7 linked regions of the Homo sapiens genome follow. The protein of the gene in region 6 purifies or fractionates together with the protein of the main gene of each other region. This does not show direct contact. Each region holds a gene or a part of one and is shown on either strand. Other genes may lie near its edges. The genes, in order: RAB14, RAB11A, GDA, AMFR, ADPGK, SLC13A2 and PTTG1IP.

Evidence for each region.
Region 1: the proteins of SLC13A2 (region 6) and RAB14 purify together in Homo sapiens (affinity purification with mass spectrometry; one large-scale study listed by BioGRID and IntAct). This does not show direct contact.
Region 2: the proteins of SLC13A2 (region 6) and RAB11A purify together in Homo sapiens (affinity purification with mass spectrometry; one large-scale study listed by BioGRID and IntAct). This does not show direct contact.
Region 3: the proteins of SLC13A2 (region 6) and GDA purify together in Homo sapiens (affinity purification with mass spectrometry; one large-scale study listed by BioGRID and IntAct). This does not show direct contact.
Region 4: the proteins of SLC13A2 (region 6) and AMFR purify together in Homo sapiens (affinity purification with mass spectrometry; one large-scale study listed by BioGRID and IntAct). This does not show direct contact.
Region 5: the proteins of SLC13A2 (region 6) and ADPGK purify together in Homo sapiens (affinity purification with mass spectrometry; one large-scale study listed by BioGRID and IntAct). This does not show direct contact.
Region 7: the proteins of SLC13A2 (region 6) and PTTG1IP purify together in Homo sapiens (affinity purification with mass spectrometry; one large-scale study listed by BioGRID and IntAct). This does not show direct contact.

The regions. Positions count from the first base shown.
Region 1 is NC_000009.12:121,191,461-121,195,790, forward strand, and holds part of RAB14 (ras-related protein Rab-14), read right to left. Parts: intron 1,960-4,330; 5' UTR 1,953-1,959; coding exon 1,901-1,952; intron 765-1,900; coding exon 711-764; intron 1-710.
Region 2 is NC_000015.10:65,886,491-65,889,489, reverse strand, and holds part of RAB11A (ras-related protein Rab-11A), read right to left. Parts: intron 1,790-2,999; coding exon 1,650-1,789; 3' UTR 1-1,649. UniProt on the Homo sapiens protein: The small GTPases Rab are key regulators of intracellular membrane trafficking, from the formation of transport vesicles to their fusion with membranes.
Region 3 is NC_000009.12:72,208,089-72,212,418, forward strand, and holds part of GDA (guanine deaminase), read left to right. Parts: exon of another isoform or gene 1-83; intron 84-136; coding exon of another isoform or gene 137-250; intron 251-2,598; coding exon 2,599-2,686; intron 2,687-4,330. UniProt on the Homo sapiens protein: Catalyzes the hydrolytic deamination of guanine, producing xanthine and ammonia.
Region 4 is NC_000016.10:56,405,046-56,408,545, forward strand, and holds part of AMFR (E3 ubiquitin-protein ligase AMFR), read right to left. Parts: intron 3,072-3,500; coding exon 2,919-3,071; intron 200-2,918; coding exon 159-199; intron 1-158. UniProt on the Homo sapiens protein: E3 ubiquitin-protein ligase that mediates the polyubiquitination of lysine and cysteine residues on target proteins, such as CD3D, CYP3A4, CFTR, INSIG1, SOAT2/ACAT2 and APOB for proteasomal degradation.
Region 5 is NC_000015.10:72,773,443-72,777,772, reverse strand, and holds part of ADPGK (ADP-dependent glucokinase isoform 4 precursor), read left to right. Parts: intron 1-2,675; coding exon 2,676-2,901; intron 2,902-4,330. UniProt on the Homo sapiens protein: Catalyzes the phosphorylation of D-glucose to D-glucose 6-phosphate using ADP as the phosphate donor. GDP and CDP can replace ADP, but with reduced efficiency.
Region 6 is NC_000017.11:28,493,746-28,498,075, reverse strand, and holds the end of SLC13A2 (solute carrier family 13 member 2), read right to left. Parts: coding exon 4,287-4,330; intron 4,060-4,286; coding exon 3,971-4,059; intron 3,886-3,970; coding exon of another isoform or gene 3,803-3,885; exon of another isoform or gene 3,703-3,802; intron 3,689-3,702; coding exon of another isoform or gene 3,686-3,688; coding exon 3,564-3,685; intron 2,422-3,563; coding exon 2,260-2,421; intron 1,627-2,259; coding exon 1,489-1,626; intron 978-1,488; coding exon 807-977; 3' UTR 295-806; downstream 1-294. UniProt on the Homo sapiens protein: Low-affinity sodium-dicarboxylate cotransporter, that mediates the entry of citric acid cycle intermediates, such as succinate, citrate, fumarate and alpha-ketoglutarate (2-oxoglutarate) into the small intestine and renal proximal tubule.
Region 7 is NC_000021.9:44,859,793-44,864,122, reverse strand, and holds part of PTTG1IP (pituitary tumor-transforming gene 1 protein-interacting protein isoform 1 precursor), read left to right. Parts: exon of another isoform or gene 1-155; intron 156-253; exon of another isoform or gene 254-330; intron 331-2,851; coding exon 2,852-2,960; intron 2,961-4,330. UniProt on the Homo sapiens protein: May facilitate PTTG1 nuclear translocation.

The sequences.
Region 1 (4,330 bases), on a different chromosome or scaffold from region 6:
CCAAAGCACTACTGGGATTACAGGCATGAGCCACCACACCTGGCTAACATATACTACTTATTATACAATGACAAGTTATATATGTCTAAGCCAATTAACAAATTTATTAGTCCTTTCCTTATAATGAGGCCACTTAAAACCTAAACCCACCATTCTCCAGTACAAGGACACAGACTTCTGGGCACTTCATAAAATGTTACATCAAACCTCTGTGGTAAGCAGCACAAAAATGTCAAAGAAATAATTTCAACTATACAGAAACACTTTCAACTATATTTAGCATATCAGTTACAACACATTGGTCCCTTCTATCACCCAAGAAAGAGTAGAAAGAATTCCATTTTAAGTATTTCAAATCTGTTATTTAACAAATGATACATGCAGCAAATTTCTCCTAATAAGACAATCAATTCCTGTAACAGAAAGTCAGAGAATAAAAAGATTAAGTTTGACATTATTTTATGTATTTTTAAAAATTATTTTAACATCAAGAAATCAAAACAAGCAAATCAGATTATATAATGTGTATAAAAATCAACCCTAAAATATGCTGGCATATTTCATTTTATCTGTACCCATTTAAAAAAAGTACAAATATAGGGAAAGGTTATATTTAAATGCATGAAGTATACTGAAAATGACACTTTCTAAAAAGTAGAAACATGGCGATAAAGAAAACTATTAATGTTTACCTCATGTATTGAACTTACATTTTTTTTCTGTAAATTGATGAAGCAAGCAAGATTTTCCTACTCCCATGTCCCCTGTTTAAAAAAAAAGAAGTTTCAGGTGGCAATTACATTTCTCAATTTTATGCAATGATCGCTATATTCCTTACCATATAACATATCACAAGTTTCTGGGACACTTAACAAATTTTTATTTTCCTACTTTATAATGATTCAAAAGTTTTCACTGTGAGACACAAATGGAATATTATTCCCAATCTTTAGCAGTGACAGAATTTGGCTGTAAATTATTACTGTTAATAAATAGCCACCAGCTGGGAAGTGCTTATTTTTTTAATGGAATTTTTTTTACTTTGAGCTGTTTCAAAATTTTATGTTTTTGTTTTCTTTTGTTTTTTTCCTTAAACTCATGCATAAAAGCAACAAATTTCAAAAACTGACAAATGGGGTAGCATGTAACAAGCAGAAATAACAAACTGAGTTCTGGAAGCTTGATTCACTAGGTCCCTGTCTTATACTTCTTGTATTATTCTATGAAAGAAAAGAATTTGCATTACATGAAAACCCCAGGAGAAAAGATGTCATCTCTGACTGTACTATAGCAATGTTAACCCTTGATGAAGGAAACATTAGAAAGGACACATTAAGTTCAACATGAAAGCAAACTGTTCTAATGTGAACAATTCATTGAAAAACGTGTACTTTCAAATGTAGTTTTATGTTTGGATAAATAGCATTAAGACTTAATTTGAGCAAAACCTTCTTGAAACTTAAGGAAAAAAACACCAATTAAGAAAAATACTATATTTTATATATATTACACAATTGATTTGGAATCAAACAATATTCTCTACCAATTTTTCCTTATAACAGAAACCCAGGGGAATCTGAGAGCTTTCACAGTATTTTAGGAATGTTTCTGCACTCCTTGAAACACTGATACTTCCTAGCATCAAAAAGCTTTCAAGCAGCCCTCAAGAACAATGAACATCACTTCACAAGGTACCCACCAGCACTGTACCACAGAAATATCCATGGCCACAATGCAAAAGCTGCATTGCTAATGCAAAAATAAATCTTATAAAAGGAGTTTTAGTTTTACAGTAAGAAAATCACTCAGTCCTGAAGTGGTACTGTTTAAGTATTAACATATAAATATTTTGTATGTTAACCTTCTTTTGGGAACAAGAGTGTAAGTTAAATAAACTTACCAATAATAATATATTTAAAGATGTAAGAGTAGTTGTATGGTGCAGTTGCCATGGTGGCACTAAAAACAAAGAAATCTCTGTTACTTCAGAAGGAAAGCATATACAAGTAATTCAAACGGATGACTGATATCCTTTAAAGGTAGAAAAGGACACTGAATACAAACAAATGTTGGTTACAGTAAGTCAAAATAAAACTGCATTTCACAAACTGATCAAATACACAAATTCTCTTGGATGAATGATGCTTACACATTCTCATGTGCTATCCACAGAAATATAAGAAACCATTTATACCACAACTCCAATATTTCACTTAATATCCACTAGAACTTAAAAGTATAATTTAAAAAAAATCCAATAAGTATTAATCTGAAAATTGTCAAACAAAAAAATCTTTATAAATTTAAGTTAAACATCACTATAGTCTCTTCTCCCCTTAAAGTCCCCTTCCCTGTTAACTGATCAAGTAAGTTACTAATGATCTACTTGTTCAGAACTCTGATATTAAACAGAATGGTATATAAAGGAACCACTTAATTTATAAACACAAAACAACGTTTTTACTCTACTTTAAATCAACAGTTAGCAGCGCAAAGAGCAATCGTATGATTTCCAAATCAATGTTGGAACTAGACTGAATCACATGAAACTGTTCTTCCTATAGATTTTTCAAGTCAAAGTTTATTGGCATTTTCATATAGCTCAACCTAATACAGGACTTGCAGATTATCACTCACACACACACACACACACACACACACACACACACATTTTTTGAAGACCAGGCTGGTCTTGGGTCTTGAACTCCTGGCCTTAAGCGTCCCTCCCATCTCAGTCTCCCAAAGTGCTAGGATTACAGGCATGAGCCACTGTGCCCAGCCAGATTAACAACATAGTAAGTGCTTCCCATACACTATTCTAGGGACTGAAAGAAATAATGTCATAAAATTGTACTTATGGTTGCAAAATTTGAAAGCTTGTGTATTAGAAGATATTTCAAAAGATCACAGCCCATTTCTTACCCTCAAATAGACTTAACCTAAAGAATTCTAATTTCTCTTCTACTTAAAAAGAAAACAAAAAACTTTCCAATTTATTCAAATGAATTATCTGAATGTGTAAGACACGTGCTAGGTCCTAGAGAGAAACAAGGGGCTGAACTGTAAAACTGGTAATAACTTTCAATAAAGTTTATTCTCAAACCAGCTTTCAGCTTAAGACAAAAATTATTTATACATATAAAGATTTCACCCATTTAAAAAAATCTGACTTACAGTATTTTTAAGCCTGGCTTTTAGTGTTTCTGTCAATGTCACATTACACAAGCCAGACATTTAATATGACTGGAGAAATTTATTTACTGAAATTATCACCTTACTATATACCATATTTCAAGCAAAAGTTCTATATAACAACATTGAACCCGTAGAAAGAATATATATTTAAAACAAGTGTATTATTATAAGGGAAGAGGAAGTTGTTAATTACAGTAAAGTATTAATCACTTCCACACACTACAGTCTTCTCACTTAGCTATCTGTATTACATTTAGTGAAAGTAGAAGCCTTGTTACCCATTCCAGTTTGGCATGTTCTAACACATTTATAATCAGTCTCCTGCATCACAGAAAACTCCCTTAACCAGTTCTTTCAGGAAAGGGAGTTTTTCTAGTTAGATTAACTGATTCTGAACATCACAACAACTTTATTCCCTTTTCCAGGCACTAGGAACTCAAAACTTTTAAGAATGAACTTGGTCCTGAGACTAAAACTGGTCTGGATTATTTACCTGATCTCTGAACCAGATGCCAAACACAAGGGGGAAAAGTAATCTCTTACATTAAAAATATTTAAAGATTATTAACTTCTTAACTTGAATTCTTCCGACTCTTCTAATCAATTTTTAATTCTTCTAAATTCTTTCCCCATTCAAACCTGGGTAAAAGTAATCACTTAGTCACCTTCAAATTACTGTCTCTTCTGTGCTCTTCTCCCTTGATTTTCCTAATTTCTTTCCCTCTTCTAACTAAAGGTTGTAGCTGTACATACTTTGCTCCTTCTATTTTATGTTAAAGCTATGACTTCTAACAATCCCAAATTTCTACTTCAAATGCTTTAAAGACTATCATAAAATTGTGACCCAATTTTAGTTGTACTAATTTGTGTACCTGCTAATTATCATACATTCATTAAATGTGAGATAACTAATTTTGAAAATGTATCTTAAAATTACAAACATTCATATAGTAGAAACTATTTCCAAATAAAAGAAATGATCACTATTTCGGATTTAATACCAGGGCTCTGTCTCACCACACCACACATTTTTCTTGCTCGTTTCTTTAAAAATTACAAATAAAAACCATAAAAGCAGAATTAAAGGAAAACTACTCAAACTTACTAATTTCAGTAAACAAAGGCAGAAAACATT
Region 2 (2,999 bases), on a different chromosome or scaffold from region 6:
CTCAAAGGAAAAATGTAATCTGACAGCATAAGAAATAATCCCCCTATAACTGTTTATTAGAATGTGAATATAATCCAAATCAATAACTAAAAAAAAATCAAATTACAGAGCATGCATAAAATACAAAGTAGCAATTTACAAATAGATAATATTATCTTCATAACTAATACACTAAAATAATAAAATGGCTATAGAAGAAAACCAAAATGACTGACTACAGCAATGCCTTCCGTGTGCCCCACACATCATGAGCACCGCAAGAGACAAAAGATTAACTATGAAATATAGTAATCTAAGCAAGCCCACACATACATATTTTTGGGGATTTCCCACCATCCTGAATAGTATCACTGCAGTTGACACAACTTCCAGGAAACTGCAGAGTAAGTGCTTAATATTATCCACGAGAAAGCAAAACTAAATATTAGTGTGCACATTTCTGAATGAGAAACTAATTGCTTCATTGATTTCAACAATGTAGTGGAAGAAAACTATTTCAGATCTCTACAATGCCTAAATGCATTCTATTTAAACTCAAGGTACTATTTCATTTTACATACTAAAAGAATACATGCCTTTAAGTGGTACCACTTGAGCAGAAATTAACCTCTCACTGTACTCTTCAGACATACTGAAACCAAAGATTTAACTGGACTATATTCTATAATATACTGCAAAACTCAAATATTAGCATTGTTAAAATAATTATCCATGCCTGCTGGTGGATATGGTGATAAAACTAGGTTGTATTTCACTTACTGGAAGGTTCTAAGACAAAATTAACACTTCAAAATTTGACACTACCAGCATTAAACCAATTATTGCCTGAGCAATAAAATGCCACATAATCTACCGCTTGGAAATTATTATAGATCATTTAAATCTTTTGGGCTGCCTGATCATTGCCAACAGAGGCACCCGAGATGGAATACCACAAGTCTCTTCAGTTCCCAGCCTACCAGGCAGCACTGTTTAACTTATGGCCCCACAACCATACTACTAATGAAACCGTAACAATCTTTTGTGTTTACTAAGAGAATTCTCCAGAAAAAGTGCCCCCCTCTCTAATCAACTTTGATGCTTACAAAAATTAAAAAACAAAATTTACTCAACTACATAAACCTATTAAGGCATTTTAGAAATTCATGTCCAGAATAATGGAAAATTTTCAAGCTCTCAAAATCCTGCTATGTTTATAGGGCAATTCTTAGATTTGTGGAAATGTACACTGCACTGAGAGAAGAGTGTATTACCTATAAGCTGCTCTGTGGCAAAATGGTAGCTTATTTCTAAGGTCTTCTTAGTTTGATTTGATCAAGACCAATAGGTCTGAGCTTCAAGTGATCAAGTTCTATTATGTCCTACATACAGTGACAGGCTTCCATGATGAAAAGTAAACAATAACTGAGGAATCCAAACATTCAGTTTATTAAACTAAGGCTAGTGAAGCCATAGCATGAAAAAAAGCTGCAGTCATTCGGGACAAGTGGATGATTTTATAAAGCTAAAATCAAAAGACTTAGGACATGGAAAAATTCATAAGTATGAAGTAATAAAACACAAAAGTGACACAAGAATTACAAATATATTTAAATCTCAGACCTGGGAAATGGACTATACACAGCCTTCTAGGGGAGAAGAGAAATGCCTTAGATGTTCTGACAGCACTGCACCTTTGGCTTGTTTTCAGTGGTTGGTGGAACATGAATAGGAACCACATTGTTGCTTGGAGACATGTCATTTTCGCGTCTGTCTGACATTTGCTTCTGAGAAACAATGCGGTAAATCTCTGAAGGAAAAAAGAAACCACAATACTTAGTGTGAATAAACCTATCATAGTTAGGATAAAAGATACATAAAGGTAGGAGATATATTTGCATCAAAGTCCCTAAGGAAACTGAACAGAGAATACATAAATTTAAAGTTTTATTTTCAAACAGCCACTGATTAGATTCAACCCTTTATTTTAACAATTGCCCTTTGGGTAAGAAAAGAAACAAAGGTTTTTCCATGTCAGAGGGAAAGGTTCACCAGTCAAATAAATCTTTGTTTAAAGAGGTAAACCAGGCCAGGCAGATCACCTGAGGTCAGGAGTTCAAGACCAGCCTGACCAACATGGTGAAACCCTGTCTCTACAAAAATACAAAAATTAGCCAAGCATGATGGTGGGTGCCTGTAATCCCAGCTACTCGGGAGGCTGAGGCAGGAGAATCACTTGAACCCGGGAGGCGGAGGTTGTCGTGAGATGAGATCGTGCCACTGCACTCCAGCCTAGACAACAGAGCAAGACTCGGTCTCAAAAAAAAAAAAAAGAGGTAAGCCAATAGCATTACATTGTTTATGGACTTAGATTCAAAGTAAACCATAAGAGTATTTTCAGTCTACCTTTACCCCAAAAAACAAACAAACAAACAAAAATTGCCTACACACAATGACATTGTACCACACAAAAAATAAATAAATTTGCACTATCAGACGCATTCGGCAGAGTACATCTTAACAAACATGCTAAAATCCCAAACGATTCTTGGAAGGGAAAAAAAGATAATGTGTTTATCAGTGACCTCCTGAACAAAACTTAAATTGTAATTAAAGAATGATACAAAATAGGCAACTTAAGATGTTATATGTAAACTCTATTTTTATTTCATGACACTTATCAAAAATAATTTAGTGTCTGCCTCTTTTACTAAGTGTTAAACTCTGTAAGGATCAAAACTGTGTCTGTCTTACTGCTGTACTGCAACATATAACATGTGTTGTGATAAATAAATAACCGCATGAATGTCACTAAATTCCTCCACAATAAGTATCTGTATGTAACACGTTTGGTCTTATACTGCACTGCCTAAAAGTTGTTCCCTGTGACTAGATTATAAAGTCCTTAAGAACAGAGAATGTACCTTATTTTTGTTTACTCTCCCAGTTGTCCCTCCAAAAACACTACTCTCAAAAAGCAAGATAATTCTAAAAATGTGTCAAATTAACACAATTAGCCT
Region 3 (4,330 bases), on a different chromosome or scaffold from region 6:
CCTGTCTCAAAAAACAAAACCCAAAATAACAACAACAACAAAAAATGGAACACACTGGATCTAATTAGAGGCTACTGTCTAAGGTACGGCATGTTCATTTCTATTATCCTAACTCCAAACTATTTCAATCCTGCAGACACTTGAGCTTCTGATGTCTGTACTAGTCAAGAAAACCCTGTTTTTTCACAAAGGAGGAAACATGGAATGTAAGCAACCTTCTCAAGGTCACGTAGCTAATAACAGGCAAAACGTAAGCAAGAGCCACTGTCTGGAGGGTTTTCCTCTGCATTTAAAAGCTTCTGCTAAAGATATGCCCCAAAGTATTCAATCCACTAGTCCTTTTTCCAAGTGCTCAGACAGGTCAGGCAATATCCGTTCCATTTTCTTTCTTGAAGATCTTCTCACCTCCTCCCATTCTCTTGTTTCTGGTCAGCATTCTCTGTAGCACTACTGTAATCTTGGCATTCTCTTTGCCTCTTTCCTGCGTTTAATGCCCACTCCCTGGATCCAGGAATTACTTTGGATTACTCTTGTGTTTTACTAAAAGACAGTTTCTAAAAGCTTCCTAAGAAAGAGTTCATGGAGAGTAAAATTTTCAAGTCCTTCGGTACTTAATCATATTTCTATGCTACCTTCACACTTGATTGATAATTTACCAAGGTATAAAATTATATGTTAAAAATAACTCCTGTTGTGACAAACAACTTATATGTACTTGTGGGAAGACCTCCTTTTTAATTGCTAGAACATGAGCATTGCATTTTTTGCAAGTACTTAATTGTCTGTGTATCACTGTGGCCCTTAGAAAATTTTCTAAAGTACTTAGAAAATAGAAACCTATATAATAGAGCGTTTTCTATTTTCTAAGTACTTTAATTATTTACTTAGGATTTTTGGTTACAGAATGATATATATGAGTTGAATTTGAAGGCATTGTTCTGCTTCCAGCATTGTTAGTGAGAAATCCAATGTCGTTGTGAGTCCTGTCATTTATCTGTGACCAGTTTTTTTTTTTTTCCTGGAGTTTTTAGCATCTTTTCTGTACTTACGAACTTAATATCTCACAATTATATGCCTTACTTTGGGTTCTCTTTTTATTCCCTGTGCTGACAATTCTATGAGGATTTTAATTTTGGAGATGAATATTATTTTTCATATTTTTGTCCCTTCCATTTATTTAAAAAAATTTAGATTTCTTATTCTAAATGTTGGATTGCCTAGATTGAGCCTAATTTTCTTATGTTCTCACCTTTGATTTTCATCTTTTCCTTTTCCTGAGCAATTCTCTTGTAATTTATCCTACAACCCTCCTACTGGCTTCCACATTTCATTTATAATATTTTTACTTTTGGAGAGCTCCTGCATTCTGATTTTCATAGCATTCTGTTCTTGTTTTGTGGGTGCAATAGTGTGTTTTATTTCTTTGAGGATGTGAGTCATAGTTGTTTTTTTTAACTGAGCTTTTTTCTGACCTTATAGATTATGTTTCCTCTAAGATTTTTTCCAGATTCTTTCTCCCCCTCCTTATCTTTTTGATAATAGATTCCCTCCAATGCCTATCAAACCCTGGACATACATTCATACTGTGATGCTATAAGGTGCTGACTGGAATTTCTGGGTGGAGGTATCACTTGTTGATGGTAACTTCATTATAGGATGAGTAGTGAAGGCAGTGAATTTGGGTCCCAAACGTCACTGTGAAGACATCTTTCTTTTAGAGCCATTCATTTTCTCTAGAAAATAATCGTTTAGTCCCCTGCCAGGAGTTGTGGGAGTAGTACACGTGGTATTCTGGGGAAAATGACTGAGTGCCCTTGAGGTCAGCCAGATTTTCACTTAAACCTCTGCTTTACCTTCTCTTTTGGAGCTTGTACCCTCTAAATACTATCCAGGTTCTATAAAGAGTAAATCTCTCTTATAAGGAAGAAGTTAAGGGTGGTTGGCTGATTTCAACAAGGTTCCTGCCAGGGTTTAATCATACCTGCATAGACTTCCAGCCAGTCCCCTGCTAAAACCCACACACTTCTCTCCTTCTTTCCAAGTTGCTTCCAGGTTCTCGTCCATGTTTTTTGTCTTCCAAGAAGATATTGAAATGTTTTCTCTGCTCATGTCTCTCCTCTCATGTTCTTCTTGTGGGTTAATAACGTTTGTACTCCTTTACTGTCATGTTTGTTGTAGTTTGCGAAGGAAAGGAGATAGATATATGTGATTAACCTTCCAGGTTGAGCTAAAGTCTGGCTGAATATTTTTATTCTGTAGTAGAAGAAAAACTTATTTATGTACTCCCAGATGCAATAAAATTTGGATATCCTTAAACAATCCTAAGAAAGAAGGAATTCATTAGTATCACATTTTAATGAATTCTGAAGCACAGAACTGTGTGAATCGAGAAAAAATCAGAAGTATCAGCTTCTCCTCCAGCTAACTTTTGGAATATAAATACCTTTTGCCATTTACCTAACTGTACTCTACATCAAGATGGCATACCTTTAAATAAAAACATTTTAAAATTAAAAACTAAAATTCTGTTTTCCTCTGGATGTACCATGTGACTTTTCTGAGCACACGTGATTCGCGGTTTTTGTGATTTATTTTTAGAGGAGAACACTAAAGAATGGAACAACCACAGCTTGTTACTTTGCAACAATTCACACTGACTCATCTCTGCTCCTTGCCGACATTACAGGTGAGCAAATGAAGCATGATTTATGGGCACCTCAAGCAAAGACAGCCAGACCATCGTGGCAAACAACTTATATGTACTTTTGGGCAGACCTGCCTTTTAATTGCTAGAACATGAGCATTACATTTTTTGCAAGTAATTACGTGTCTATATGTCACTGTGGCCCTTAGGAAATTTTCTAAAGTACTTAGAAAATAGAAAACTGTATCATAGAGTGTTTTCTATTTTCTAAGTACTCTGATTATTTACTTACAATTTTTGGTTACAGAATGATATATATGAGTCTGAATTTTGTGTATTAATTTAGGGCTTTTTAGGGAAACTTTACTAATTCTAGTTGTGGTAATAGTTTCTTATATCAGCAGATACATGGTGGCTATTGGCTAGAGTCAGGGCACTGTGCTAGATGCTGGAAACGCAATGAGATAAAAAATAGTCTCTGCCCTTGAGAAGCCAGACAGAATACCTACACCATTGATCACTAACCTTAGTAACAACTATGGTGCTGTTACTAGACGTCTAGCATTGTGCAAAGCACTCTGGAAGAATTAGTTCAGCAGCAAACAGCCTTCTGAAGTGGTTACTGATGTCCTCATGTTACAGATGGTTAGACTGACGCTCAGAGAGGATAAGTAACATGCCCAGGGTTGCACAGCTAGTAAGAAGAGCTGATTCTGGATTCGGGTTGATGATTCCAAAACTTGTACCCAGCACAGTACCTGGCACATAGCAGGTGCTCAGTAAATACTGTTGGCTGATACACTGATGCCACTGTTTGCTTATGCAAAAGACCTGACCTAATGGGTGACTCTGAAAATAGATACTACAGTCTTCAGAGAAGGCAAAGAGAACCCAGAACTACGACATCTGGGAAGGCTTTATGAAAGGGTCCTTTAAACTGGGCTTTGAAGTAAAGACAAGATGAGGAGAGGACAAACTGTCTTCTAGATAGGGGAAGGACACAGGTATGGGAACAGGAGTGTCAATAGTGGATGCAGGGACCACAGTAGTTTAACTAGAGGAGTGGATTCATCGCCTGGGGGCAGTGGGAGAAGAGGGTAGGCAGATGGGAGGGTTCACATTGTAGAAGAGCTCAAATATGCACCAAAGACTCAAAAAAGGTTCTGAGTCCAGGTGTGAGTGATGTGATGAAAGTGGTATTTTAAGGAAGATTAATCTAATGGCCAGTTATCTAAATGAATTACAGGGGAAGGAGAGAGGCAGAAAGGTTTTTAAAAATCTCTTATGACAGAGATGGAGACACTGTAAAAACAATTACCATTGTCCCATATAGCCTCAGCTTTCTTGCTGAAATAGAATTCTTCCAGCACCTTTGATGAGGACTAGGTTCTAGTGCTGAGAGCTGCTAGTAAGACTGCGTAAAATTCCTCACAGATAATATTGGCATTGTTTCAGTTAAGAATAGTATGGCCAGGCGCGGTGGTTAATGCCTGTAATCCTGGCACTTTCGGAGGCCGAGGCGGGCGGATCATGAGGTCGGGAGATTGAGACCATCCTGGCTAACATGGTGAAACCCTGTCTCTACTAAAAATACAAAAAATTAACCAAGCGTAGTGGTGGGCGCCTGTAGTCCCAGCTACTCAGGAGGCTGAGGCAGGAGAATGACGTGAACCCAGGAGGCAGAGC
Region 4 (3,500 bases), on a different chromosome or scaffold from region 6:
AATGAAGAGAGAAAACACCTTAGTAATTTACTGTTACTACTGAATTTGGTTTAACCATGTTGTAATTTAGTCCGATTTTTATATATTTCATACCTGCTACATCTTAAAATCAACTGTATGAGTAGGCCTCCATCACCTCCCTCCCCAATTTCACTCACCGTAAAATCACATGAGCAGTCCTCACTGTCACAAGAAGAGACTATAAAAAAGGATATTTTCTTTTTAGTAAAATGTAGCATTGCTCAGGCCAAACTTTTTATAAAATGATAAAAGACAAACATTTCTCAGTTCAATTAAAAAGCAGATTGTTCAAGTTTACCCATTATTTTATTTTCTCTGCTTCAAATTTCTGTAAAATATTTTTATGACCTAGAAACCCAACTTTTATTGAGGAAAAGTCCTGTTAATAGGTGACAACCAATTACACCTACCCCCCAGGAATCCCCCTACAATCTTGAGGTTTACCCTGGTAGTCTGACCATCAATTCTATTTCACACAGCATTAAGTCACTATCACTGATTACTTAGAAGGGTGATGCTGTAACTCCAAGTATAGTTCAGGTACTGCTATCCTAGACACGAGGACCTGCTCTCTCCCTAGTGCTTTGTGCACTCCCTTTGTCCACCAGCAGAAAAAAGAACGAAAGCAATCAAAAGCAAAATAAGGCCAGCCACATCACACCTTTAATCCCAGCACTTTGGGAGACCGAGGCAGGAGGATTGCTCAAGCTTAGGAGTTCAAAACCAGCCTGGGCAACATGGTGAAACCCCATCTCTACAAAAAATACAAAAATTAGGTGGGCATGGTGGCACGTGCCAGTAGTCCCAGCTACTTGGGAGGCAGAGGTGGAAGGATGGATTGAACCTGGGAGGTGGAGGCTGCAGTAAGCAGAGATCGCACCACAGCACTCCAGCCTGGGTGAGAGAGCCAGACCCCAGACCCTGTCAGAAGGGAAGGGGAAGGGGAAGAAGTGGAAGGGGAGAGGGGAGAGGGGAGGGGGGAGGGGAGGAGAGGGGAGAGAGAGGAGGGGGAGGGGGGAGAGGGGGGAGAGGGGGAGAGGGGGGAGGGGAGGGGGGAGAGGGGAGAGAGGAGAGGAGAGAGGAGAGGAGAGAGGAGAGGGGAGGAGAGGAGAGGGACAAAATAAGTCTCTCATGGCTTTTTTTTTTTTTTTTGTAGAGACAAGGTCTTGCTATGTTGGCTAGGCTGGTCTTGAAGGGTATTTTTTTTATTACAGAAATTGACGGCCAGGTACAGTGGCTCACACCTGTAATCCCAGCACTTTGGGAGGTCGAGGCAGGCCGACTGCTTGATCTCAGGAGTTCAAGACCAGCCTGGTAACATGGCAAAACCCCATCTCTACAAAAAAATCAAAAATTAGCCAGGCATGGTGGTTCATGCCTGTGGTCCCAGCTACTAAGGAAATGAGAGGATCACTTGAGCCCACAAGGTGGAAGTTGCAGTAAGCAACTGCACTCCAGCCCGGGCAACAGAGTGACACCTTGTCTCAAAAAAAAAAAAAAAAAAAAGATATTTTTCATTAAGAAAAAAAGTCCTCTTAATCTAGTAGAATAAAACTATTACATTATTTATGTTTTAGATTAAATTCCCATTTGTAAGTGAAAAATATTTTACAGGAGAGAGAAACACTATGAATGTAAGAAATGATTTAGTTTAAAATATCAAATCTGTAATATGATAAATTATCTTAAAAGAATAAACAGTAACAAGCTAAAATAAAAGTATATACTATAGTATGAGCTGACGGGCCTAAGTTAAATGTGCTTATTTTTAGGTATACCCTTTTCAAAGTTTGGATAATATTATATTAGTTGAAAGTTAGAGAATCAAAAAAAGGCAAACATAAGTATCATTCTAACTTTGCAATAAATCTAAAGCAAATAAGTCAGTGTAAATGGATTTTTCAACAGATTTTCTGTCAAGACGAAATACGGTTGTATATTTTTCATATACAGAAGTATTCACCTAAGATTACATATCTTATTATTTATATTAGGACTATTGTATTTTAATTACAATATTATAATATGATAATTAACATTATGTATTTAAATGTTTCTTTTCTAATTTTACTTACACTACTAAATGTACTCAAAAATGAATGCTATCAAACAGAAATAAACTTTAACTCTGCTCTACCAAATTCCCAATGAGTAGTTCAAATGTAGTGTTTTGATATTAGCCAATTAGCTTCAGTTTATCTAATATCTCATTTTTTAATTAATAATACTAATTATGGGTAAGATAAAAGTATTTTGCCTTTGGCCTGAAGAAAAGGCAAATATAGCCATTAAATATAAGGACATACAAACAATTTTTATTTCTTTTTTTTTTTGAGATGGAGTCTCGCTCTGTCACCCAGGCTGGAGTGCAGTGGCGCAATGTCTGCTCACTGCAACCTCCGCCTCCCGGGTTCAAGCAATTCTCCTGCCTCAGCTTCCCAAGCAGGTGGGACTACAGACGTGCGCCACCACGCCCAACTAATTTTTTTTTTGTATTTTTAGTAGAGACAGGGTTTCACCATATTGGCCAGGCTGGAGAATTTTTATTTCTACTGAACAGAAATTGGTATTTTCAGAAAGGTTTAAAAGAGTGAAAAATTTTTAAATCTTAAAATATTCATGAATAGACCAGATTTTTCCTTCAAAATGATGAGTACAGTTTATTCATTATTTTGTAAAATCTTTATACCCTACGTAAAGAAAGAGTTACATAAAATACCACACAAAAGCATTCAGTACCAGTACCCAACACACAAAAAGGAACTGAAATGCTTGTTAAAATGAAAGACCAAATATCCACCTGTCATTTCATGGGTGAAAATAACTTGTCAAACATCCAGCTTCCTTGAAAACAGACAGAAATACAATCTGAGCAAGTCCTGCATCCAGTATCTCACCTCTGCAGCCATGAAAGCCAAGGTGTGCATTCCGTGGGTGTAGCCGGTGATGGAGCAGACGGCCGCCAGTCCACAGCAGGAAAGCAGCATGGCAACCAACAGGGACAGGACTCGACCGTGGCTGCTCATCGGCGTGGTGGGCGAGAAGGAAAGCTGAAATGCACACAGTAGGAAACTGCTCATTCTTCTTCATGGAAGTGTTAAACTTCACTGAGAAATTCAAGGTCAATCTTGGCTTCTCTGCTTAGGGTTCTGTGCTAAGCACAGAAAAGCATCCCATTACTATATGGTCCTATTCTCCAATAACCCAAATATGAGCATGAGGTGATATTTAGAGATCCGTGTCATTTAATTTACTGAGTATAACAATATGCATTATATTTTCATCCCTTACTCTCAAAGATCCTCCTAGCACTGGGATTATAAACCTCTAGAAGCAATGTTCCGAGGGTATACAACTCTCTCCTCTCACCTTCAACAGGACTCAGGACAGTGCCTGTTCTGTTCTGTTTCTTTCTCAATCTTGCTCTAGTCCTCCTCTCTGAAATTGGCATTCCTAGTCTATTAGGGCTAGCACAATTG
Region 5 (4,330 bases), on a different chromosome or scaffold from region 6:
TTCTCATTTTAAGGAGTCAGACTGTTTAAAATCTCAGCAGTACTAGATATGGAGAGTGGGGTGTTTATAGTTTTGTTTTGTTTTGTTTTGTTTTTGAGATGGAGTCTTGCTCTGTTGCCCAGGCTGGAGTACCATGGCACGATCTCAGCTCACTGCAACCTCCACCTCCCGGGTTCAAGCGATTCTCCTGCCTCAGCCTCCCAAGTAGCTGGGATTACAGGTGTCCACCACCACACCCAGCTAATTTTTGTGTTTTCATTAGAGATGGAGTTTCACCATCTTGGCCAGGCTGGTCTCAAACTCCTGACCTCATGATCCACCTGCCTCGGTCTCCCAAAGTGCTGGGATTACAGGCTTGAGGGTGTTTATAGTTTTTGAAGTAGTTATTTTCAAAGACAGGTTTCCCTCCATTTCTGAACCTTTACTCTTCAGACTCGGGACCCAAATCCATTTGGATACAATTTTTTTAGACTGGGCTGTCTGGAGGAAATGGTATCCCTCCTTACTCAAGCCCTCACTGTCTGAAACTTAGGAACCTACTGGCGTCTGAGAGCTACAGATACTTGTATTCCTGTTGATTCTACCAATCTAATGTTGCATTCATTAGAAATAAAGGGCACCATGTCTGAGGTAAAATTGAGACCAGTTTGCAAGGTGTGTTTGGTTTCTTAACATTGAAGGTTGTGAAAGGAAAGATTTTAAACATATCTTTAAGCAACTGCCACGTGCATGTCCAGAATGGCCCCTTCTGTGTGTGTCATGGAGAAGTTCTGGCTTATATTTTCAGTGTTTCTTTACTAGAAATCATCCCTCTTTTAAAGAGAAGGGCCAAATACAGTAGCTAGATGTTTTATGCACTGAAAGGCATAGTAAATCTTAGGTTATGCTTCTCCAGTTGACCAGAGTCATTATGTGTGTCTTGAACAAGAAACTGAGTATTTAAATGCTATTTGATAGGCAAAACTCCTTTCAAAACATGAATCCCTAGGGGAAGAATTAATAAAAAGGACCCTTATAATGAGGATGCAGTCTCTTTGTGTCTTGAGGGAGGATGTCTCTTCCTTGCCCTTGTAAATCTTCCTTAAGTGATGTAAATAATATCTAGTCTGCATACAAACCTTTTTAAAGTTATGTCATTTTAAAAATTCTAAAAGGAATACAAGCATGTTAAAAGTAGAAATATACCTGGTAAAATTCCTCTTCATCCCAGTCTCATTCCTCTTCATTTTTGAAAGAGACTAAAAGGGAAATACAACTATGTATTTTACACCAAAATCTCATCCATTGGGACATTTTTATTAATGAGTTTACCTTGTGGTTTCAGAGCTGCTCAGAATTAACTCTGAAGCCCAGTCACCCGTATCACTAGGGGTGGTCTCAGTTTGCCGGCTGGGAGCTGCCTGTGTGGTAATCCAACCTCACTGGCCAGAATGACATCCCAATAGGCAGAGGCAGGAATAAAGATGACCATGATAGGGGTAGGGGCGGGAAGACCTCATCTAGCTACCTTAATTATTTGAACGTTCTCTTTAAAAGAGGGATGACTTAGCAAAGAAACCCTGAAAATGTAAGACAGACTTTCTCCATACACACATAGGAGAGGTCATGCCAGACAACCTTAGTACAAGTTGAGCATCCAGAATGCTCTGAAATCCAAAACTCTGGGGCACTGACATGATGCCACTGATGTATATTAAGTACTTATATGTGAAAATTCCACCCACACGTAAGGAATAGAAACTTTATTTCATGCACAAAAGTATTTAAAACATTGTATAAAGTTACCTTCAGGCTGTATGTATAAAGTATATATGAAATGTGTTTGGACTTGGGTTGCATTCCCAAGATATCTCATGTATATGTAAATATTCCAAAATCGGAAACACTCTGATCTCAAGCACTTCAGATAAGGGATTCAACCTGTACTTTATAATTTCCATCGAGACAACCAGGAGTGGCAGGTCTTTAACGTTCATGGGTCAGTCCTGTGAACACTGGCCAAAGGGTGAGTTCTTAAAATGCTGCAGGTGTGCCTAAGTCTGTAAAACACCACTAAATTCTAAGAGGCAGGGTTTCAGCTGGGAGTACTCAGGCATTTAGGAATTTATTGTATCTTACCATCCTCATTTGTTTTTAGAGGGAAGATGCCTGATACCTAGCCTTTGACTGAAACACATATTTTGCTTACTCTGCGCCAATTGCTGTTCCTAAGTATACATTCACTTATTTAATCTTAACCATAGCTCTATGAGTTAAATGCTCATATTATTGCCATTTTGTGGATGAGGAAACCGAGGCACAGAGAAATTAGTGACTTGCCCAAGTCACACGGCCAGCATGAATCCTGTTTGGCTCTGCCAGCGTTTTTCTCAGAAATGTTACATTTTTGTTACAGTAGCTTTGTTCTGAAATGCTAAGCACCTATCTTCTCACTTTGTAACTAGTGTAAAAGTTTGCCAAATTATTGAAGAGTCCTGTGTTCTGATGCTAATACATAAATCCAGTTAAAGTAATTTTTCTCCTGCCATGTGCTGTTTACTTCCCAATTCAGGTTTCAGACCTACTTCCTGTTTTTTCTGTTGAATAAGGTTCTGAGAAACATTTTCCTTTTGTTAAATGCAAAATGGCTACTTGGTGCTTCTGCTGCTTTCACACAGTTTTTTTCCTCCTTCTAGAGTCAATGCATGTGTTGATGTGGTGCTCTCAGGGGTGAAGCTCTTGCAGGCACTTGGCCTTAGTCCTGGGAATGGGAAAGATCACAGCATTCTGCATTCAAGGAATGATCTGGAAGAAGCCTTCATTCACTTCATGGGGAAGGGAGCAGCTGCTGAGCGCTTCTTCAGTGATAAGGAAACTTTTCACGACATTGCCCAGGTTGCATCAGAGTTCCCAGGAGCCCAGGTCTGTTTGGTTCAGCAATAGTAAATTAAGGGTGGAAAAAGATGCCTTTTTAATATGGTTCCTAGAAGCAAGCAAGCAACTTTTCATTCCAGTTTGAAGAGGAGGGGAGCAAAATCACCCCTGGTTGAAAACTGTGGGTCTAGGTTGATGGTTCTCAGACTTGAGCATGTGTCAGAATCATTTGGAGAGGCTGTTGAAACACAGATTTCTGGGCCTACTACCAGAGTTCAGATTCAGTAGATGTGGGATGGGACCCAAGAATTTACCTTTCCAGCAAGTTTCCTGGTTGATCCTGTAGGTCTGAGAACCTCCTTTTGAGAACCACTGGTCTGCAAGGTAGAACCTGTCGAAGTTAGAACCTTAGTGGTTTCCAAGTTCACCTGGTGATTATATACAAAGCCCTGCATGGTCCAGGCACTTCCTGGAGGTTCACGTGGAATAAGAGGCAGTGCTGGGGCTGGAGACCCAACCATGGCTCTTCCTACCTCACCCCAGTATGCCTGCTCCTACATGTACCCTCATGCCTCTTGAGGCTGAGTTTTGGTTGGTTGGTTATCTCCCATGTCTTGCCCCCACCCCATTCTTCCTCCTCATTTAAACCTCCCTTTGGCTGGGCACCCAGTCTGGTTTGGTAGTTCTAGCCAGGGAAGCTCTTAATGCCATTTTTAATTGGCACCTTTCACAGGCAAACCTTTGTGACTACTTTTATTTTGATGACTTAAGATTTTAGGCCGGGCACAGTGGCTCACGCCTGTAATCCCAGCACTTTGGGAGGCTGAGGCAGGTGGATTGCTTGAGCCCAGGAGTTTGAGACCAGCCTGGGCAACATGGTGAAACCCTGTCTCTACAAAAAATACAAAAAATTAGCTGGGCATGGTGGCATGTGCCTGTGGGAGGATCACCTGAGCCCGGGAGGTCAAGGCTGCAGTGAACCATGACCGTGCCACTTCACTCCAGTCTGGGCAACAGGGTGTGACCCTGTCTCAAAAAAATTTTAAAAATAAGTTTTTTGTCTTCGAAGCTGCCTATTTGAACATTAGAAATGGACATAGGCATTACCTAGCTGAGTTTCTAAAGGTGACAGCAAGTTAAGATTTCAGTTATCATTTTGACAACTGGGATCAGTAGTGAGATTCTTATCTCTTATGAGAGAATCTCGATAGTTCTAACATGATGAGTTCACTGCTCAAAAGTCTTTATGATTACGGAATTTAAACCACCAGTTTGATTTCTCTTCTCTCTTGATTCTGCCTTTATTTCTTGATGAAAAAAATTTTTACAGCAACTTGATCTAGCTTTGTGATGGTCCAGGTTATTTCTTAACATTGTAAAACCCCTTTCACTAGAGGAGTGCCTTTTCATACTTCCTTATAGTTTAAGGCAGGTTGATAAACATTATATGAAAATTCTGAAATCCACTTTGTAGATA
Region 6 (4,330 bases):
CAGGGAGTGCTCTGGGAACGGGGAAGCTGGTTTTCCCAAAGACACGCAGGGACTGGCAGCTCCCAATTAGCCAGGCCCAGTGATGTCAGTGCTGCTCTCCTAGGTGGCTGCGCCCACTCTGATGGGCCTTGGCAGGGATGCCCGGCCATTACCTTCCCCCCTGGGTGGGAGGGGTGCCAAGGGGGCTGCATATAGGACAAAGGCCAGGCCCCCTCCTTCTGGACTCCCCCAACCTGGGGTCTGAACCACATTGGGGACTAGCCCTGGAGAGTGCCATGAAAAACCATCCCAGACTTTACTGAAAAAGACTTTAATGTGACTTTAACAGCCCAGAGGCTGTTCCCGTGGCAGCTGCTGGCAGGCCCTCCTCCCAGGCCACTCCAAGCCTGAATTTCAATAAATACAGTGCAAGTAAGTCTGGTCACTAAGCTGGGGATACCAAGACCTGGGGCACCAGAGAGGGCATGTTGTATTGTCTGTGAACACACACGTGTGCACTGTCCAACATACATACCTAGGATCATGTGCATGCACACAGCCCCCCTCAGATAGCCTCACGTCACACACCCCTCACATCCATGCAGGCGCACACATATGCGCACACACACATGCACACACCTTTTATTCCAGCACATAGGAAACTGAGCATACACCCCTTCCTTACAGACACGCAAGAGATTATGTACACACGTGCCTTTCAGCCTTTGGCCTGGAGCTTGGAGCTTGGAGCTTGGGGTGTCCCCTCCGGGCTCAGAGGAGTGGGAATGGGGTGGGTCTTCCTGGGCATGGCCAGGCTGTGCCCCAGCCTAGGGGCTTGGTGTGGTGGTGTTGGCCAGGCTTGGCAGGCACTGGGCTGTGGTGTTGGACTGTGCCCAGGAGGGGAAAGAGTGCAGGCTGAAGAGGGGGATGCCCCAGCTGTTGATGGCCAGTGCGATGATCAGGACTCCAATGATGTTGAGGAGGAATCCTGCCCGGGCCTGGTGTGAGGAGAGTCCATTTGGCTAAGCAGGGACTGGGCTGGACTGCCCCCAAGTCCCCAGGTGTTTGGGGGTGCACAGGAGCCCTCCTACCAGCAAAATTCTCTCTGGGAAGTCCTCCCGTTGGTCTAACCTGCAGCATAGCCAATGCCTTTGCCCCTTGCTTTACTCCCTGTGCTAACAGGGGAAAGGGGCGCTCCTCCTGAGCTTCCAGGGCCCTGGGCTTGTTCTCTCTGAGCTCATCTCCCTGAGTGTGGGTGCCTGGCACCTTGGAGCCTTCCCCATGTTCCCCACCCACTTCCCTCCCTCTCACATAGCCTGGGGCTGGCAGGGCCTGAAGATGCCACCACTGAGAGGTCATGTCCCAACCTCCCCAACTGCACCTTCATTCCAGATGAGGACCCGCTCAACTCTGAGACTCTCAGTGGCTTTAAGCTGCTTTGTGGTTCACTAAGATGAAAAGTCAGAGCAGGAAGGAGGGATGAGGCATTCAGGCCTCCCTGCCACTTACCATATCCAACACTTTGAGGTCCCCGAAAGAGAAGACGATGGCATTGGGCGGGGTGGCCACAGGCAACATGAAGGCCAGGGAGGTGGCCAGAGTGCAGGGGAGCATGACGTAGAGAGGGTGGAGGCAGATGGCCTGGGCCTGGAGTGGGAGGCAGTGGCGCAGAGCTGAACTTGGTCCCCAAGCCAGAGGGAGGGGCATGGCCCCCAATTCTCCTGCTTCTCTGGGGAACAACCCCTGTACCCTAATACACTCTCTGGTCATGAGCCCACCTCTTCTCCCAGAAGGCACTGGGTGACCTGGAAGGGCCTCTTGACCTCTCTGGAGGGAATGAGTGTGCTGCCCTGCCTTGTGGGGTGTGGTGAGGGGAGGGGCCCATAAAACTGATCTCAAAGGGGCTCCGGGGGTGTCATCAAAGGCTGCAGGAACACGCCTGGGGAGGAAGGGGCTTGGGACGCTTCGGGGAGCAATTTCACCCCGTCACCTCAGGAATGACCAGAACAGGGACTGGGGTGGGGAGGTGGGTGAGGCCACCAGGATCCCCATCAGGATACTCCAGGGGTGACATCATGAGGGACGGGGTGAGTCAGGGGCCAAAGCGCCTTGGGGCCCAAGGTGGCTCAAGAGCCTGGAGAAGGATGGAAACTCAGGGGTCCTCTTCAGGAAAAGGAAAAGAGGAGGTGCAAAGACAGGATACTCTGCCCAGCAGGCAGAACCCCTGGTGGGGCAGGCAGGCGGGCTGCCTGGAGGAGGTGTTTCTGAGGGCCAGCTCACCATGGAGGCTAGGATGGGCAGGAAGATCGTAGTGGTGGCCACGTTGCTAGTGCACTCGGTGAAGGTGGCCACCAGGAGGGAGAGGATGATGGCAATGGCTGGAGCTGGCACACTCTGCAGTGGGGTCAGCTTGTTTCCCAGCCACTCTGACAGGCCCGATCGCTGTGGGCAGAGGAGGATGGCATGTGAGAGGCAAGGCTGCCTGGGCCCCCAAGTCTTCTGCCGAGGCTCTATGAGGCTCCTGCTCCTGCTAACATCTCCCTGGTATTCAGAGTCAAAGACAGCTCTAAAGGGATGATAGGACCCAGCTAAGACCAAGGGGTGCCCTTTCCTGCTCTTGAAGAACAGCTGGGTGTGGGAAGAAGGGGCAGATGAGAAATTAGGAGGGGGCCAAAGGGCCTTCTTGGGAAATTTGGGGCTTGGTGGGAGCAAAAATCTTTGACCGCACTGACTCCTGCCTTCCTGACCTCTCTCAGGAGGTCCCTGGACAACCTTAGCCCTCTTCCTGCCCCTTCCAGTCCAGTGGCTTGGGGCAGAGGGAACCTTGCTCCTGGCAGGGAGGGAAAGTTGGGGGAGGACCCTGACAGAGGCTGCAAGAGGCTAATGGGAGGACAGGGACAGTCCACAGGGTCAGAAGAGCTCCGAGGTCTTGCCTTCCCACGTCTGGAATGCCAGGCTGTAAGGTGGGACTTAATCTCGCTCAGTGGGGCCAGCGCCTAGCACAGGACTGGGCACAGTCAGTGGATGAACATGCCACAGACCCAGGAGTCCCCTGCACCGATCCCTGACCTGGGCAGCCACCTTCTGTTTGAGCCAGAACACGGAGGCCCAGGGATGCCGTGTCAGGGATTTCCCTCTTTTGGATGGAGGCTCTGGGGAAAGATGTTCTGGTCCCCAGAGCCTGGGTGGGTGTGATCATGGTGCCCCCTGGTGGCTGCGGAGGGCAGACCGCGTCAACACAACCCCCAATTACTTTGGTGCTGATGCTACTGTGTGCTCTGGCAGCGGGCAAAGGGCTGGGGTGGGATGGCATTTGTCTCTGAGAACAGGCTCTGCCCACCAGAGAATCCTGCCTTCCCTTGGACTTTGAGAACTGAACAAAGAGGTCCCTAGGGCTTGTGTTTCTTCCTCCCACATGAGGGCTCTAACCTAAGTCTTCCCAGCTGCTGCAAAGGCTCTGCCTACCCGAGAGGCTCCTACGTGGGGACCAGGTCTCCCCTCTGTGGGACAGAAGCAGGGCCCCCTCTCTCCCTGCCACAGAGACACCCTCACACAGGCTGAGGAGGGGGCTGGGGGCCTCTCACCTCACTGCCCTTGGCCAGGGCATAGCCACCACCCAGCAATAACACGATATTCCACGGCATCTTCTGGTTCACCGTCTTCCAGTCGAGGAGGCCAAGAGGGGCCTTCAGCTTCCCTGGGTTTTCTACTTCCCAAGCAGAGAAGGATGGGTCACCAAAGAACAAACAGGCCTTTCCCCTCTCCATTTGCGGGCTCCCTGTGTGGGTCCCTTTTGGAGCTTAACGCGTGCAGGAGGGGACCCTCAGTTCTGCAACATCTCAACTTTGTCTCCGAGTCCCTGTGCCCTTGGCAAGTCGCTCCAGCCTTTCTGGGCTTTGCCTACTCCTGCCAAGTGTGGTGGAAGGTACATTACATACTTGAAGGCAGGGGCTGCCCGGAGACCCTTCCCTGCCCCAGTCCAGGTGCTTACCTGGGTCCTGGGTCAGCCCTGGGAACTTGGAGGGTATGATGAACATAATTATGCCGATGAAGATGGCCACTGTCCCATCGGACACCATGCTGTTGGTGGAGGGGGCGCGGGGAGGGCTGGGTTAGCCGCTTGGGGTTGCTCAGGGCCACAGGGTGGAGGGTGGTGGAGATGAGCCTCTCCCATAGACAAGCCTGGGGAACCTTCATCCCCCACCAAGTGTTACCTCCTGTTCTGCAATGGGGGCCCTATACCCTTCCCTCCTTCCCGAGCATGTGAGCCCCAGATGTGTCCTCCTCCCAACCCCTGCAACTCTCACCTCTCCCCCTTGGCATTGGGAAAAGCCAAATTGCCCCAGCCAAG
Region 7 (4,330 bases), on a different chromosome or scaffold from region 6:
CAGGTTTTGAGAACTGCAGGGCCAGAGGCTTCCTTTCCCCGGCAATGAGGTTTCATGATATGAGGAGGCCGGGAAAGATGTATTCGATGATTTCTATTCTAAGGCATGAGCCATGTTCTTAAAAACTCTTCTTCCTCCACGAGACCGTAGCGTAGGTTTGAGGAGGCCGGGAAAGATGTATTCGATGATTTCTATTCTAAGGCATGAGCCATGTTCTTAAAAACTCTTCTTCCTCCACGAGACCGTAGCGTAGGTTCGAGACACACCCTGTCAGTTTGTGGGACTTAAGTGGATACTTGCATTTGCTGATTAAAAATTGAAAGACGCTGTTTCTGTGGTTTCAGATCTTGACATTGGTGATGTTGAACCTGCTCTAATGCGCCTGGTCCTGGTGCATTTTCTAGATGGTGCTTCTTTTTAGTCTCTGGATTTTTCTATTGGAAGTCATTTCAGCTTTAAACATAGCTCACTATTGTATGTGGCTTTGTAGCCTAGAGTGCGTTTTTGCCATAGTACCCTGTGTAACCCTCACCACCCTGGGCAGGGTGTGGTGATGACAGCCATCTCGTGGATGAGGCGGCTGAGGGACTTGCCCAGGTCATTGTGGATGGGGCCAGTCCAGAAGGGCTGAAGGCCTGACTCCAGTTCTGAACCCAGACAGGGCGGTGAAGAGGGCCGCTTGCCCTACAGTAGCTCCAGGCGTGTGTGGGTGTGCTCTTGGGCACACAGGAGGTTTCTGGAAGGAGGTGTCAGTGCCTGGGAGGTCTCAAGAGGACCTGCGTGTTGGAGCAGTGGCTATGGTGGGCTGTGTCCACGCTCCTGAGGCCGTGGCGGGCTGTGTGTCTCTGTGTTGCCGAGGCCGTGGCGGGCTGTGTCTCTGCTGCTGAGGCCGTGGTGGGCTGTGTCTCTGCTGCTGAGGCCGTGGTGGGCTGTGTCTCTGCTGCTGAGGCCGTGGTGGGCTGTGTCTCTGCTGCTGAGGCCGTGGTGGGCTGTGTCTCTGTGCTGCTGAGGCCGTGGCGGGCTGTGTGTCTCTGTGTTGCCGAGGCCGTGGCGGGCTGTGTGTCTGTGCTGCTGCCTGAGCTGCTTGCTATGTGCATATTACTTCATCGATCAGAAAAGCAGCACAACCACCAGAGAACACCGTATCCTCCCAGTGCAGTCCTGTGGCTCATGGTACCACTGTCATGGAAAAATGGAAAATCAGACATTTACAACTTGAGCCACTTGAAAAGGGAGGATTAGCCAAAAATCGTTAATTGCAAGCAAAACCCCTGAAATGGAAGATACTCCCAAATGACCAGAATAAACAGGGTTTAACTGTTAATTGTTACATTATGCTGGAAACCACTTAAACACGACACTAAGGTGGTCACTGTATAAGTAGCCCTGGGAAAGAAGGCCCAGGGGACATTGTAATTAATATTTTTTTGTAATAGACTTTTGCCCTAACCTGGGCCAAAAACGCCATGACTTTCTATCCTATTAAAAAGTCAGTAACACTGTTAATGTGGAGATTGGGAGTAACAGGCAGTCTGGACTTGGGTCTGGACTTGGGCTGGCGCATGAGGTGCTGCCGAACGGCAGTTCTTTTTTTTTTCCTTTTGAGACGGAGTTTCACTCTTGTTGCCCAGGCTGGAGTGCAATGGTGCGATCTCGGCTCACCGCAACCTGCGCCTCCTGGGCTCAAGCGATTCTCCTGCCTCAGCCTCTGGAGTAGCTGGGATTACAGGCATGTGCCACCACGCCCGGCTTATTTTGTATTTTTAACAAAGATGGGGTTTCTCCATGTTGGTCAGGCTGATCCCGAACTTCTGACCTCAGGTGATCCGCCCTCCTGGCCTCCCAAAGTGCTGGGATTACAGGCGTGAGCCACCGTGCCTGACCCGAACAGCAGTTCTTTCACCCCTTCCTGTGCCATCTGCCTGCGTGCTAGGCTGTCCCCTGTCACGCTCAGTGCCTGGCTCACAGACCGCTTTCGGGCCTCGTTGTGTACTGCTGTGGCATGGGCTGGGCCCAGCTCTGGGCTCTTACACACACACACACGGGTGTGATGGTGTTGTCTCCACACCACTGCGGCCTCACACCTGACGTTCAAGGGGCTCAGACAAGAGCGTCTATGAGGTTCTCTCCAGCTGTCAGTTTAGGGCGGGCTGAGCCGTAGTTGCATCATCTTTCAAGCTGTGCGACTTAGTGCAGTTGTGAAGGTCAGAGGTAGGAAGCATGGTCCTTGCTACAGATGGTGACCATGCTCACCCAAGTCCATTCAACACAAACTCAGTGAGTGCCTGTGATGGGCCAGGCTGTGTCCTGTGTTCTTGGGAGACTTCAGCCAGTGAAGTGCACAGGTGCCCGGCGTGTGGGGAGGAGAGGTCTACGGAAGCAAACCTCACAGGAGGTGAGGAGGAGGGGGTGGAGGCGGCTGGTTGTGTCCAGTCTGTTGATCGAGGCAGGGCCCATCCAGTCAGTGGGGAGCCACACAGATGTGGGGAGAGTGCTCCAGGCAGAACCGGCAGGCTGAGCTGAGGCTGAGAGCATGAGGTGGGGTTGGCAGCACTCAGGAGGCTGCCAACACAGAGGCCCCGTGGCCTCAGCAGGGTGAGTTGTGGAAGAGGCCTGAGTGACGCGGGCCTTGGATGAGTCCGTGGAGAGCTGACAGGGCTGCTGGCCGCTGTGCTGGGTGTGGACCGAAGGGCGCTGAGGGTGAAGGCAGAGATGAGGCGTTGAGGGGGAGGTTGAGCCTTTACAGCCATCCACAGAGCGATGGCAGCACTGGCGGGCTGTGGGCAGAGCCTGGACAGTTCTTTGGTTTTTCTGTTGTTTCTAATGCTTGCTTAATGTTGGTCTCTTTCAGTGTCTTTGGTGCAACACTAACAAGGCTTGTCTGGACTACCCAGTTACAAGCGTCTTGCCACCGGCTTCCCTTTGTAAATTGAGCTCTGCACGCTGGGGAGTTTGTTGGGGTAAGTCATTGTTTTCATTTGCTGCTTGCAAAATCGATGCTTCTTTGAAAATAGTAGTATGGGCCGGGCGCGGTGGCTCACGTCTGTAATCCCAGCACTTTGGGAGGCGGAGGCGGGTGGATCAAGAGGTCAGGAGATTGAGACCATCCTGGCTAACATGGTGAAGCCCCGTCTCTATTAAAAATACAAAAATTAGGTGGGCGTGGTGGCATGCACTTGTAATCCCAGCTACTTGGGAGGCTGAGACAGGAGAATTGCTTGAACCCGGGAGGCGGAGTTTGCAGTGAGCCGAGATCGTGCCACTGCACTCCAGCCTGGCGACAGAGCGAGACTGTCTCAAAAAAAAAAGAAAATAGTATTATGTGCTCAGTTAGCAGAAGTTGCTAGAAAATGTGCTGCCAGTAGCTCTGTGACTCCCAGGGAGAGGTTGGGAAGCCAGGGGTGATCTGCTGACCGGGAAAGCAGCCCTGGGGAACCTGGAGGACCTCCTTCAAGGTGGTCAGCCCCAGCACTGAGCTCTATCTCACCACGTTACAGAAGGTGTGGGGAAAAGGGTGAGTTTGAAGGCAACGTGTTTGACTTCTCTGCTCAGTATGTTTTGTTCATGTGTCACCCCTGAAACTCACCTGTGAATTCCCCTAGAATCTCCAGTTTTCCCAGCTTAAGAATCCCTGCTTGCGTAGACAGCCCTCTTTTTTTGTGTGCGTATCTTTGTATATTTGATTTTGGAGGCGTTTTTAAATTAAGGAAATCAGCTCTTGTGAGATTCAAGTTGTTTTCTAGTTTGCCTTTATTTATTTATTTATTTATTTTTGAGACGGGCTGGAGTGCAATGGCACTATCTTGGCTCACTGCAAGCTCCGCCTCCCAGGTTCACGCCATTCTCCTGCCTCAGCCTCCTGAGTAGCTGGGACTACAGGTGCCCGCCACCACGTCCGGCTAATTTCTTGTATTTTTTAGTAGAGACGGGGTTTCACTGTGTTAGCCAGGATGGTCTCGATCTCCTGACCTCATGATCTGCCCACCTCAGCCTCCCAAAGTGCTGGGATTACAGGCGTGAGCCACTGCGCCCAGCCCCGTAGTTTGCCTTTTAAATCAGTTTGTGGTGTGTTTTGTAACCTAGAACTCATTATTATGTAGTTGAATTTATTAATCTTTTAGGCTTCAGGTTTTGGGGTAATACATAGGGTTCCTAAACTTTGTAAAGAAGCAATATTTTCTTAAGGTGTTTTGATGATTCTTTTTGTTTATTTGCATCTTGGATCCCTCTGCAACTTACGTCTTACTTACCACTCTTCTAATTGATTTCCATTTCAAAATCTATCAGCCTCCATCTGAAACAACTTGTTGCTGGTGTTGAGGCCCTAGAG